Regions from separate parts of the Homo sapiens genome. Here region 1 is linked to region 2. The links come from fine-mapping of genetic effects on gene expression. Tissue or cell type: whole blood. Region 2 holds a variant in brackets; the other region holds the start of a gene. All regions are shown on one strand. Distances are from middle to middle.

The links. PIP is the estimated chance that this variant, and not a neighbour inherited with it, causes the effect.
Region 1: it holds the start of TSHZ3, and the variant in region 2 is fine-mapped to the expression of TSHZ3 in whole blood (TOPMed, PIP 0.93).

What each region holds. Positions count from the first base shown.
Region 1 is chr19:31,345,181-31,352,022 of GRCh38, reverse strand. It overlaps TSHZ3 (teashirt zinc finger homeobox 3), which reads left to right and starts at 2,587. Exons shown (of 2, transcript NM_020856.4): 1 at 2,587-2,843. The coding sequence starts at 2,804. It overlaps TSHZ3-AS1 (TSHZ3 antisense RNA 1), which reads right to left. Exons shown (of 3, transcript XR_002958388.2): 1 at 3,106-6,842.
Region 2 is chr19:31,294,134-31,300,975 of GRCh38, reverse strand. All of the region lies in intron 1 of TSHZ3 (teashirt zinc finger homeobox 3), which reads left to right. Among named protein-coding and RNA genes, the nearest start is that of TSHZ3-AS1, 24 kb to the left of the region's middle. The variant T/G (reference allele first, on the strand shown) is at 3,922.

The sequences.
Region 1 (6,842 bases), 51 kb before region 2:
CAATGGTTGGACGGACAGATGTTAGGGCGGATCGCACAGCGCTCGGCGCCTGAGCGGGGGAGGGCCAGGCAGCGACCCAGCGGCGGCGGCCGGCTACGCGGAGACCCGAGTTCAGGCCGCGGCCCGCAGTGGGAGGGGGCCGAAGGAACAGAGGTTTGCAAGAACAGCGAGGGGATGGAAAGGAGGAGAAAAGCGCGACCAGGGAGAACTACACGCTTCCGTGTGCGGCGCCCCGCGCTGTGCACACGCCGCACCGGGCGCGCCTAAGTGGGAGCTTCGAAGGTGAGCTGGGAGCCGGCGGGAGCTGACCCCGTGCGGCGCAACCCGCCTCCAGGCGACAGGAGCTCAGCGCGGCCACCAGAATGGTGAGGCCGCCGGCGGTGTCGGCCAACTCACCGTTTCCTCGCTTGCAAGAAGCGTTTCACGCTCCACGGCCGCGTCTCCCCGGCCTGGAGGAGTAGCGGTTCTGGCCTCTGCGGCCGCGGGCACCCAACGCGCACGGCGCCTCAGCCCCCGAGTCCGCCAGCCCGAGAGCCCCGCCGCAGCCCGCCTCGGACTCCCTGCCCCGCCTGGGGTCCGTACCCCACAACTCCGAGCGCTCCTGCGCGCGGAAAGGCGCTGGAGGCGGCTTTATAGCCGGGGAGGCCAGCGGCGGCGCATCTGCATCCTGGGAGACGTCTGGACCCAGCCCAAGCCCGCAGGCTGGGCGAGCGGAGACTTTTGATCTTACCGTGTGGGTGAGATCACTGTCTCCCGGTCTAAAAGAAAAGAAAGCATGCTGTGAACTTTTGAAACAAACTTGCAAAAACAGTCGTAGAGAAAAAATAAAAAGGACACAGGGCAGAAAAAGAGGGAGAAAGAGACTAAAAAAAGAAAAAGATAAGGGGAGGGGGAAGGAAGGAAGGAGAGAAGGAGGAAGAAGTCTGGGGTTTGCTGCTCCAGGAGCGCTCAGGCAGCCGGTGCTGGAGCGCGGGGCGCCCGCCCTCGCCGGGACTGTCGGCCTCGGGGCCTGCGAGAGCGCCAGAGCCCCAGCCGGCGCGCCCGGGCGCAGGGCCGCCTCGGGGATAGTGGGCCCGGAGGCCGCCCCCGCGCTCCAGCAGCCGCCGCCCGGCAGCGCCCGGAGCCGGCCCCGGCGCGGCCGCCCCATTCCCGGCCTGAGAGCTGGCCCAGGGAGACGCAATCGAGCCCGCAGCGCATCGATGCGCCGCCGCCCGCGCCGCTCGGGCTCCGGCTCCCGCTCAGCCGCCGCCGCCCGGGGGTCGCCCGCATGAGCTCCGGCCCACCCGCGCCCTCACCGCCGCCCGTAAGTGAGCCCGCGTCGCCCCGCCGCCCACGCCGCCCAGCCAGCTCCTTCTTGCCGCGGCCAGTCGGCCGGGCCGGCCCGGAGCCTCAGCGACCCCGATCACCAATCAATAATCAATCCCTCTAGTCCAGCAGCCCCGGCAGGCCGGGCGCGGGACACGGCGCGGCGGCCCCCTAGGCTCTCGGGGGGAGCCCCTGGCGGGGGATGGGCAGGGGAGCCCGGTTTCCTTCTCCCGCCCCCGTCCCGCCCTAGGATCGGCCCGCGCCGTGGATGGGGGGCGCGGCCCGGCTCCCGGGGGCGAGGGGCGGGGTGGAGGGACCCTGATCATCCCAAAGTCAGGAGAGGAAACTTGAAGGAACCCCCTCCCACACCGACCCCCGGGACGGGCCCAGGAAAGTTTGTCCGGGGAAAAAAAATTGGGGGAAGTGGCTACGGCGGGTCCTGGGGGAGGAGCTGGGTGGCGCGGGGTCTGAGGGCTGCCCCCACCCGCCCCGGCCCGCGCCCGCCTCCTCCCTGGAGGGGGCCTGCCCGTGGGCTCTGGCTTCCCCGGGGGACGCCAGCCCCGGCCCGGGGACCACGCTGGGGGCTCCGGAGTCGGCGGGTGGAGAGGAGTGCGAGCCGGGTGGGGCAGCTGGGGGGTGGCTGGGGACGAACGCTGGGTGGGAATAGGGGTGGGGGGTAACGAGCGCCCCGGGACGGGCTCGGCGGGGCTGGCGCCGCGCCCCCGCGTGTGCGCACGGGGCGGAGGCGGAGGGGCGGCACCCCTTTCGCTGGCGGGGCGGGGGTCCCACGCGGGCCTGGGGCCGGGGGCGGGGGCGCGGCGCCCCCGCGGGCGGGCGATTGACACGATCATCTCCTTTTCCTTTAAGCTTGCCTGTTGCCGACGCCGCCGCTCCAGCCGCGCCACGGGCAGAAGACTGGACCGCCGAGCCCCGGGCCGCGGCGGCGGCTGCGCGTCCCCCCGGATGCCGTGACCCCCGGCCTAGGGGCGGGGGCCGGGGCAGTACCGGTCCGGGCCGCTCCCGCGCTCCTCCTCCCACCGCTCTGCCCGCCCTCTCCCCGCCCCCCAGCCCCGAACCCCGCGCACCTCGTCTGGGGACGGGGCGGGGGGGGGCAGGGCCGCCGCTCCTCCCCGCCCCCTCCTCCTCTGGCCTCTGGAGCGATTTGTCAAACTTCCCATTCCGCCGGCAGCGCGGTCCTCCTCCTCCTCCTCCACCTCCTCCTCCTCTGCCTCCTCCTCCCCCCCGTGCTCCTCCCTCCCCGAGCCTCCCTCGCCCGCCCTCCTTCTTCCCTCCGCACGTTCGGGGTTCGCGGCGGAGCGCGGCGCGGGGGGGACGCGGAGAGCCTGGGCGCAGCAGCATCCTGCGGGCGGCCGCTCTCCGGGGGGGAGGCTGAGAGCAGGCCCGCCTCGCCCCCCCGCGGGCCCGCCGCCCCCTCCCTCCCTGTCCTCAGCCCGGCAGCGGCGGCGGCGGCGGCAGTGGCAGTCGCCGGAGAAGCATCATGCCGAGGAGGAAGCAGCAGGCGCCCCGGCGCGCAGCAGGTACGAGCCGCTTCCCCTTCCTTCTGCTCTCCTCCTCCTCTTCCTCCGCTCGCCCCGCGCCTCCAGCGGGCGCGACCCCGCTCCTCGCCCCGCTCTTCTGCCCGCACTGAGTAACTCCGGGCGCCGCTCTCCTGTTTGGGTGCGTGCGCCCGCCTCGGGTACCGGGCGCCCCCCGGACGCCCCGCCGCGCTCTGCCCTCTTCCCTCTCGCACCCATTTGGGGAGCCGCTCGCGGAGCGCGCTGAGCCGCGCCAGGTCCCTACCTCCTCAGCTCTCCGGCTGCAGAGGGAATGGGAAGCAACCCCGGCCTGGCTCTTTCTGTGGGTGGCGGGCGGGGTCACCTGAGTTCCCCGGGACATCTTCCGCGTCCTCCGAGCGGCCGACCGCCGGGGGACTGCCTGGTGTCCGCCGAGCCAGGGAGCGCGAACGAGTGAGCGAGCCGGTCCCCTCGGCCACCTTAGTACTAACACGATTGATTCCTCATTTCTTGGGCCCAAACTGGGCACAGCGGTGGAACCCGGAGCGCACAGGGTCTGGGTATTGTCAGATGACTGTCAAGTCCATGTTAGATGCTGGCGTTTCCTTCTCCCCTGTTTGTGTTTCCTCGCCCCCACCCCCTCCTTGTACTGCTGCTCCCACCCTCATCTCCGCATAGCACTTAGTTCTGGGACGTGTCTGAGTACTTTTTTGTTCCTCCTTTTTTTTTTTTTTTCTTCTTCTTTAACCGGGAGTGTCAACTCCTGTTAAGACTGAGCCGATTTTTTTCTTTTCTTTTCTGGAAAACGCATCATTGAAAACAAAACAAAAACCACACACATAACATTATTTTGCAATAATGTCGGTTGGGGGCATGTTGCCTGGAAGAAGGGTTTCTGGCCCGTTGCCATCCTTGATTTGATGACTGATTGATCGCCCGTCATGCTGCTGCCTTTGATCTATTCATTCCCAATAAACATCAATAAATCACTTGCAATAGTGAGGCCAAGCTCTGTGACGTCAGGAGGGCCCTGTCAGTGCAACTTTGGGATTTGGGGCGGATTGCCGAGAGGACCACATATGGACGTGATGTATTTTGATATGAGTAACACTCAGATGTGCAGAGGTTCAGATGCTCCCTGAAGGGGAGGGTTAAGTGGGGCTTCCTTTCTTTTCTTTTCTCTTCCTTTCTTTTACTTCTCTTTTGATGTTAAGAGGGAAGGGCAGAGAGTAGGGTCAGGGCATTGGCTGGTGCCCATCTTGGAGGAAGGCGTTGTAGCCATGGTGCCCTGAGTGCCCATAATTTCCATCATGCCAGCCGGCACTGCCAGGGGACCTCACACGTTGGCTGCACTCTGCACTCCAGACCCCTTACACGGGGTCACAGAGAAGGAATGATAATTCTCTCTTCTCCCAGAAATGTACTTGCCTGCCAGTGTCTTCAGAAAATCTCAGAAGAAAACAGGGTTGGTTTGGGGCTTAGGATGCAGGTTTTGCTCTCTGTCCTCGGTGTTGCCCAAATTTAGAAAGTTTGAAAATTCCAGGAGTGATTGTAGGGAGCTTGCCGCCTCCCTAGTTAACCTCCTGGAGCTTGCTTCTTGCCCGTCCCACCTTCTACTTTAAATTCCAGGCTCAAGCAATGAGCTTATCTACCCAAAATAAACTCTGAAACTTTGGAGGAATCCTTCACAAAGTTGAGTAGTAGGAATGTCTTGGGCTTCTTCCAGTCTTTGAAATTTTTTTTTTCTTTCCTTTTTGGATACACATTTTAAGGTATGTGTGTGCCTCCATCCAATGAACCATATGTGATTACATCTTTACATTTGGTTCAGAACTCTCTCTCTAGTTCATCTCTTCGGTTGCACCCTGCCAATCTGAGACTCGTATTTGATAGCTTCCTCCAGAAAAATATCAGAGGAGGAGGGAACCTGCTGTTGGCTTTATTTATTTATTTATTTATTTATTTTTAGAGCAACCTGTTCACTAACCTTTTCACACTTTTTTTTTTTTTTTAAAGAAAGCCAGCCAGGAAATCTCAGGTCAGTTAAGAAAAATTCATTATATAAAAAACTTGACTGCAGGACTAATAGGAGATGGAAGAATGGTTTTGCTCTATCAAAATGACCCGTCAAAACGACTTTGTTTCATATTTGATTTAATTGTCTCTCTCCTGACAGGCACATTCATCAATAGCTTAATGGTCAATCAGAAGCTGGCAGCATGAGTGCTTTATTTCTTTCCCATACTCGGGTTTTGGATTTACTTTATCAGAATGCCTCTGCCTAATGGACATGTGGAGGAGGGGGTGGAGGCGGACTGAAGAGCTACTTATTTAAGAAGAGTGGAGAGAAAAAAAAAAAACTCCACATTTAGGCTGGTGATAAGTATGCACAGAGGTTTTTTTTTTGGGGGTGGTTTGTTTGTTTGGATGGACCAGAAACTTCCCATTTTTTTCTCCTCTTTTTTAGTTTTCCCAGCTGCAAGTTATAAGGTTCATGCCAGCTTTTGTGGCATACTGGGAGTGATGACAAATTGATTGCTTTGTACTGATAGAGAGAGAGAGTGGGGAAAAGAAAGATGTCTGCTGATTGGTAACTGGAAATCCAGTCCCCAGCAACCTTGAGAATACTCGAGAATTTTTTTCCCCTCCAAACTGAAAGGTCCGCTCAGCCATAAAAAAAGAAAAGTTGTTTTGCCAGCTTCATTAGTGTTCACCTAATTAGCTGTAAACCTGATGGATTCCTGACAGCTTTAATGATTGGAGATGACAAGCTCGACGCAGTGTCATCCAGCAGAATTAGGTTTGCAGCTAGTTTGATGTAATCAAGTTGATATTACACAGTCCTGGCTGCCTTTAGTTGTGCATTAACTCAATTTTCTGCTGCAGGTGACAAATGGGCTTTGGTACCTGGATAATCATGTCATAGGAATTAGGGCCCTTTTAATGGTCTAGGGTAGAATAACAACCACAAAAGGCCAAGAGCTGGGTAGGGCGAGCAGACGTGGCACACAGGTACACACGGTCTTCATATCTAGGCCAATGTATCATTGCTTTCCCGAAGGCCGAAGCAGGCTCCAAGAATCCCTGAAAATACATATTTCTGTACTTTAGGATTTTTTGATGTTTTGATAGAAACTATGTATGGCTTAGGGTCTTTTCTCAAAGAGAAAGAGAGGTTTCTTTACCTGCCAAAGAGAAACCTGGGCGGGAGTTTGCTTCCTTGAGACCTGTAATTTCCAGGGGGTGTGCATTTGTGCTGGACAGATGTTGCTGCTTTTAGAAGCTCAGAGGAGTGGGGTTAGGGAAGGACAGTGTCCTTCAGGCAAAATGACCATTATCCCCTGCTTAAAGCATGATTTTCTCCTGTTCAGAGTGGTTTTTAAAAAACATTTCTGAAAATGCCAGAAAAATTTTAGTGTAATACTTAATAGCAGATATTTTACTTATATTAATTTTCTGGAGGCAAATGTGAAATCATAAAAGACCATTTCTTATGCTTCCAAAAGAAAAAAAAACCAAACAAAAAACAAAAAGAAACCATCGAACCACAATTTGCCAGCAAGCTATATTCTTTGAAAGGGGGTAATGTTCCGTGGAGTTCTTAGGTGGTAAAAACAAGGCAAGGGTAAATCTTCAAGCATCTTGACTTTTGTGAAAGTGACTTGGACCCCCTAGGGTCTGCTGGTGCCACAGAACACTGTGGATCCCCCTGGAACAGCCAGAGGGGGTTCCATGTTGCCAGTAGACATGGGCATGCCTAAGAGGTGGCCCACCTGGTGGTGTCCAGATGACACCTTCCTAAGTCTGGTCCACACATCGGGCAGCTCCAGGAAGGAGCTTTTCCGTTCTCTCTTGGAAGCACATGGAGCATTCAGAAGGGCATTTCGGCCTTAGCTTTGGGAATTTTTTTCGTCTCATACCTGCCACGTATTTCTCCTTGGACAGGTATTCTACTCTGTAGCAAGGTGGCAGAGCGACTGGTTTTGACCGTTCTATGATTTTTTTCTTCCCCCATTTCCTACG
Region 2 (6,842 bases):
CAGATGATTAGCAGTGTTCTCAACGGTGTTTTTGCATAATCTTACATTTTGACAGAACTCCTCAGGCGCACGGTATTGTCAGTGCTCCGCAATCAGTAGGACTTTCTTCCTGACAACATTTACTTTGTCATTATCAATCTTGTAAGTGGTCATCTAGCTGGTTCTGGGTGGATGGAGGAGTGTCATTATTAATGCATTTGGGGCTGTGACTTCCTACCGAGAATCTCTCCTGAAAATTAAACTTCTTACCAATTTGGATCAAATCAGAGGAGCCACTTAGCAGCCCTGACCCCAGGCTTGTGGGGCCACTGTAGACTGCTGGGGCGTCAGCTCCATGCACGCTGTGGGACCTGGAGCAGGAGGTGGTGCGGCGAGTGCATCGTTAGAGAGGCCTGGACCTGGGCCAGCTCTCCTGGGGCCATCCCTCCCTAGGAATTCACCCTTTGGTTATAACCTAGCTACTTTCCAAGCTAGGTTGGTTTTTTCTTTTTGTCCACATTGAATTGAGTTCATCTATGGTGATATAAAAAAAATTTGTGTTCAATTATAATCATATCCAACTGCCCCAAATTAAACTGCCCTGATCTATAAGCATTCATAACTGCATACAGTTAAGTTACATTAATAGTCAATATAATAAACCTTCACCTTTATTGAAGCTGCTCTTGTTTCTACAGCAGTTCTTTAATCTATCTCAATAGATTTCTGGTGTACAGCACGTATAGATTTGGCCAGTGACAAGGGTTAGAGTAGTCTCGTAGAACATTTACCTGTAGCTCTGAAAAGCCCACATTTATCAGAGGATGAAGTCGATCACAATGTACCAGAATCAATGGAAGGCTTGTGGGATCCCTCTTAGGCTTGTAATGCATTCACCTTCTTTGGAGAGAATTCACACACACACACACACTCTCTCGCGTGCTCACACATACACACATACTTCTCTGTCTTAAAGCCATTTATCTCTGAATGTCAAATTGCAATAATTAACCATTATTGATCTTAAATTCAATTAACTTCATTAACACAGGTCATGGTGAGGGTGCGTGTAAAGGAAAGGCATTTGACAAGTGTCTTTGCTCATGTGACATTCTGTGTTCACAGTGGCGATGATACAGTGTTCCTACTGTCCCCTCCAAGAGGCTGCCAACAGAGAGGGCTGCCCTGAGCCTCAGAGACTTGGGTCCCGGACCCAGTCAGTGAGAGACCCCCGAAGTAATTTTTCTTTTTGGTCCTGAGAACTTTGCACAGTAGGAGTCTTACAGCTGTAAGGCAGCGTTTGAGCCCCCTTGCTATGTGTGGACACGGGGACCTTTGGAGCACAGGCAGATTAATCCATGATGGTCAAGGGATGCTGACCCAGGGCCCGACTTCTCCCCTGCACCCCATAACCTTGTCACAGGGTGTTCATGGACTTTCAGGCTTTGCTACATCCAGAAAGCGGCCCTTCTATTTGTATTTTCAGATTAAATAAAAATGACTTTCCCTCTTGATCAAGAAGAAAAACACCCGCATCCCACAATTGCGACCAGCAGAGGGTTCTGGGCACCCTTGCTACACGTGTGACATTTCTTGCTTTATCTACCTTGCATAGTTTGTGTCTCCCCGTGCCCTCCAAGGGAGGTGATGATATTGTCCCATTTTTCAAGTGGGGAGACTGAGGCTGAGAGATGAACAGACTCACCAAGCACACCTTGCCAAGGTGGCGTGGCCGGACTCCAGCCTACTGTCCTTTCCGGTCAGAGAGAGTCGCCATGCGGTTGTGTGTCACACTTTTTTTTGAGATGGAGTCTCGCCCTGTCACCCAGGCTGGAGTGCAGTGGTGAAATCCCGGCTTACTGCAACCTCCGCCCTTGGGGCTCAAGCAATTCTCCTGCCTTAGCCTCCCCAGTAGCTGGGACTACAGGCGCCCGCTACCACGCCCGGCTAATTTTCGTACCTTTAGTAGAGACAGGGTTTCTCCATGTTGGCCAGGCTGGACTCGAACTCCTAACCTCAGGTGGTCCACCCACCTCGGCCTCCCAGAGTGCTGGGATTATAGGCATGAGCCACCGTGCCCAGCTGTGTGTCACGCTTTTAAAGAATCAGGAGACCTTCTCTCGGTTTCTTCACTCTTAAGTAGTACATTTTAAACGTGTATTCTGGAGACAGGCAGTGAGATCCAGCAGTAAAAGCCCTGGCTGCTTTTTTTTCCCAATTCCAGTCCTCGTTCTGTGTCCTCATCCCCTATTCTCTGTCTCTCTAAGCGTCAGTCTCTTCATCCATGACATGGAGCCCATGGACGGCTCTCGCTCCTTCTCGGGCTGGTTTATAGCTGGGCAGCGATCATGTGCAGAAGGTACCCCCAGGAGTGCAAGGCCCCACAAAATGGGCCAGGACCGTTCCCAGACAGTACTGCTGCAGGTAGATGGGAGGCTTCTGTGCATCCACAATTGGTTCTGGGCTTTTAATTCTTTACGGAAATGCTGCTTGGTGCCGAAGTGTCTCAAGGAAATGGAACAAAACAAACAAACAAAAAGAACAAGCATGAAGTCGGCTCTTCTATGGGGTCAACTTTTAATTTAAAAGTTTGATTTAATTCAAAGAAATTGACTGAGTATCTGGCTTGTGCAGAGCCCTCCCTCTGCTCTGTATGGGGAGGGCTGGGACCCCCTTGCCTACCCAGCCCACTGGGAAAAAGGGACTGCCTAGCTGTAGGGTTTCTGCAGGGCTATGGGGATGCAGAGGTGAGAAGAATGGGCTTTGGATGGCGGGGACAGCAAAGCTCTTGGTCATGTGACACATCAGCTGGGTTGTGGGAGGTGAAATGCTCCTGGTCACATGAGCAGCCCTAGAGTGGCCTTCCCTGGGTGCAAGGGAAGCCAAGAGACACAAATCTCACAGGTCCGTGAGCACCTCCTGAGGAGTGACAGGTGACCTAGGAGGCCGCAGGAGCTCCATACAGCTCTATCCCTGCGCCCGAGGTGGTGGCCCACTGACCCTTTCTCAGGAAATGTCTGCTGATCCAGTAGCAGGTCTCTCTGCAGAGGGTGAGCATTTCACAGCTGGGTTTTAGGAGCATAACCACTGGACCTGTGAGTACGCATTAGGGCAGGGATGGCCAGGGAAGCAAGTGGCAGCTGAAATGGGTGGGGGTTGTACCTATCCTGGTTTATTTTGAGTGTCCTCTCCAAGCCTGTGTGTTTCTAGAGCACTTGCATTAGAAGCAGAAAGTTCAGGCCAAGTGCATCACCTCATGCCTGTAATCCCACTGCTTTGAGGGGCTGAGGAGTTGAAGGCCAGGAGTTCAAGACCAGCCTGGGCAACATAGCTAGACCCTGACTCTACAAAAAAAATATTAAAAATCAGCTAGGCGTGGTGGTGTGCACCTGTAGTCCCAGCTACTTGGGAGGCTGAGGCACGAGGATCAGTTCAAGGCTGCAGGTGAGCCATGATCACACCACAGTACTCCTGCGTGGGCAATGGAACAAGACCTTGTCTCTTAAAAAAAATAAAAAATTAGAAAATCGAGGTTGTAGAACTTTCTGCAGTTCTTAGGAATGGGCAAAAAAAAGAGACAGGAAGGGAATAAGCTACCCTTACTCTTGGTAGTTATCTTATTCAGTCTTCACAGCAGAAGGGTGGGGCCCAGAGAGGTCTCACTGCACATCTGTCTCCATTGTCCTGCCTGCCACACAGACGCCTACCCCGAGTAGTCCACCACAGGGACCTGGGAATGCTGGCGACGTGATCCGCAGGAGGGATCCTCTGAGGGGATGCGGGGAGCTGAGAACTGTGCCCAGTGGAGGAGGCAGTTGGCCTCGAACAACAAGCCTGAACCTGAAAGGAAGGGACAGACCTGAAACCCGCTGATTCCCACAATGGGGGACAAGACCCTGCCTGTGGTTAGGGGTGCTATGCCCCCTGGATGCTTTGGGTATT[T/G]CCCAACACCCTTCCAGCCTCCCACCTCCCGCTCCCACTGAGGTCAAAATTAGGACTGCAGCACATAGTTTGCCTATGTCTCTGTTTTCCCATAGTTTGTTGTCACTGTGGGTGACACTTTCACCTAGAATGCTGAGAATGCTGCCACGGAAGAGAGCAAAGGTGAGAGGCTGGAGAGCTGTCCCAGGCCCTTTGGCATTCTGTGGAGCTGGCACCTGAGGCCCCTGTTCCTTTGTGACTGACCCCCAGTGCCAGAACCCACTCTCCACTGACTCCCAGGCATGCAGCCCCAAATGCCCACTCCCTGGGACCAGGCACTGTGTCTTCTAGGCTGACGGTGCCCAGTATAGAGCCTGACACACAGGAGGTGCATGCTACAAATAAAAATTCCTTTATAACTTTCAAAATGACACAGTACTAACTGGGCAAGGTGGCCCACGCCTGTAATCCCAGCACTTTGGGAGGCTGAGGCGGGCAGATCACCTGAGGTCAGGAGTTTAAGACCAGCCTGGCTAACATGGTGAAACCCTGTCTCTACTAAAAATACAAAAAATTAGCCAGGCATGGTGGCGGGCACCTTTAATCCCAGCTACTCGGGAGGCTGAGGCAGGAGAATCGCTTGAACCCGGGAGGCAGAGGTTGCAGTGAGCCGAGATCACACCACTGGACTCCAGCCTGGGCAACAAGAGCAAAACTTCGTCTCAAAAAAAAAAAAAAAAAAAAAAAATTCACAGCACTTCCAGCACTTCATGAAGGTGTGCTTGTGAACATTCCAGACGGTGCAGAAGGGCACCCGTTTCCTCCCCTTCCTCTCTCCATGCCATTCCCCACAACAGTATCTGCCTCCTCCATCTGCAGGACAGCTGCTAATATCCAGGCCAGGATTATTTCACTGGGTGCCCACATACAATCACACACACACAAACTTGCTCAGAAAACAGAGACCCATGTTTGTGTTTGTGAGACTTATTTTCTTTTCCTACCTTCTGCTATGTCTTAGAGATCTCCTCATATGAGAAATTAGAGAATTATCATTATTTTTAAACTTTGTAAGCAGTTGGGTACACATGGCCATAAAGATGGGAACAGTGGACACTGGGGCCTACTAGATGGGAGTGGGGGAAAGCGAGGGGCAAGGGCTGAAAAACCACCTGTTAGATATCATGCTCACTACTGGGGTGATGGGATCCATCATAGCCCAAACCTCAGCATCACACAATATGGCCATGTAATAAACCTGTACCTGTACCCCCTGAACCCCAAAGTTGAAATTATTATTAAAGAACCTTTTTATGCAGAATAACATACAAAAAGGCCAGCATACGAATATAAGTGTAGGTGGAATTTTCCCCAGGTGAACACACCTGTGCCTCCAGGGCCCAGGTCCAGAGGCAGAACATTTCGTGTTCCAGGATTTCCACAGCCCTTCCCCAGCCACCACCTCCAAAGGGTAACTGCTGTCCTGACTTTTAACACCACAGGTGAGCTTTGCCTGATTTTGAAATTTACATAAATGAATTCATAAAATATTTTGTTGCTGTGATCCTCCCATGTTGTTTTGAATAACAGTTGATTTTGTCTGTGGCATGGCACTCTAGCATGTGGACAGGACACTGTGTATTTATTCACTCTACTGGTGGTAGACATTTGAATCCTTTCCAGTTGCTTTGCTGTTGTGAATAGCGTATCAAAGGATATCAGCGTACAGGTCTTTTGATGAAATACATATGCACATCTAATGGGTCTAGATCTAGGAATAGAATTGCCAGGTCACACAGAGTATGTGTAAGTGTAGCTTTCGTAGATACTGACAAACAGATTTTCAAAATGGTTGTAACAGTTGGTACTGGAAAGTTCCAGTGTTCCGTATCTTCTCTGACACTGGTATCTCTGTCTTATCGTCCTTGTGAGTTGCTGCATAGTATTTCATGATATGGGTATACTTTAGTTTGTTTATTCACTTCTTTGGTATTCTAAGAAATACTGATGAGAACACCCTTAATCATAGAGGGGTTTTTTTGTTATTGTTGAGGGGCTATGTATGATGTATGAATGTTTTTGTAGTAAAGATTGCTATCTGGGTCAGAGTGTAGATATTTTCAATTTTGATATATACTACAAAATTATTCTCCACAAGAAGGCAAGCAAGGCATGAACCAGTTAGTGAGAGTGCTGTTCTCATTATTATATTGTTTCTTTTCTCTCTCTCTTTTCTGTCTCTCTTCCTTGTGATGGATGGTAAGGTGTTAAGGGTTCCTGATCTAGCATAAGAAACACCCAACTCAGACTATATAAGTGTCAATATAAAAATGTGAGATGGGATACTTAAGAGGAAACATATATTGTGATGCCAACCAGTCAATAGATTATATATTGGTTGGAGAAAAGCTGTTTTAATATATAGACATGAGGTTGAAATCTGTAGGCATGTATATGTCAGTCAAAATTATTTAAAAATTGAAACATTTGACCATTACCTTTGTTCCTTCAAGCAGGCTAGAATGATTTTTTCACTGTCCATCCAAACAGTGTTCACATGCACACTAGTGAGGCCTGGGTGCATGTTAACTGAGAGCTGGGTCAATACTGAGTGAGTGCTTGTTGAGTGCTGAGTGAGTGCTGAGTACTGGCTAAGTGCTGACTGAGTGCCGCTGGCTGAGTGCTGGGTCAGGGCTGGCTGAGTCCTGGCTGAGTGCTAGGTGAGTGTTGGGTCAGTGCTGGCTGAGTGCTAGCTGAGTGTTGGCTAAGTGCTGGCTGAGTCCTGGATGAGAATTCGCTGAGTGTTGGCTGAATACTGTGTCAATGCTGGCTGAATGCTGGATCAGTCCTGGCTCAATGCAGGCAGTGCTACAGACCTTAAGAAGGTCACTTAGTCATGGTGGCTACCATGCAGGTGCTCAGTGCAGAAAGGGTAGGGCTAA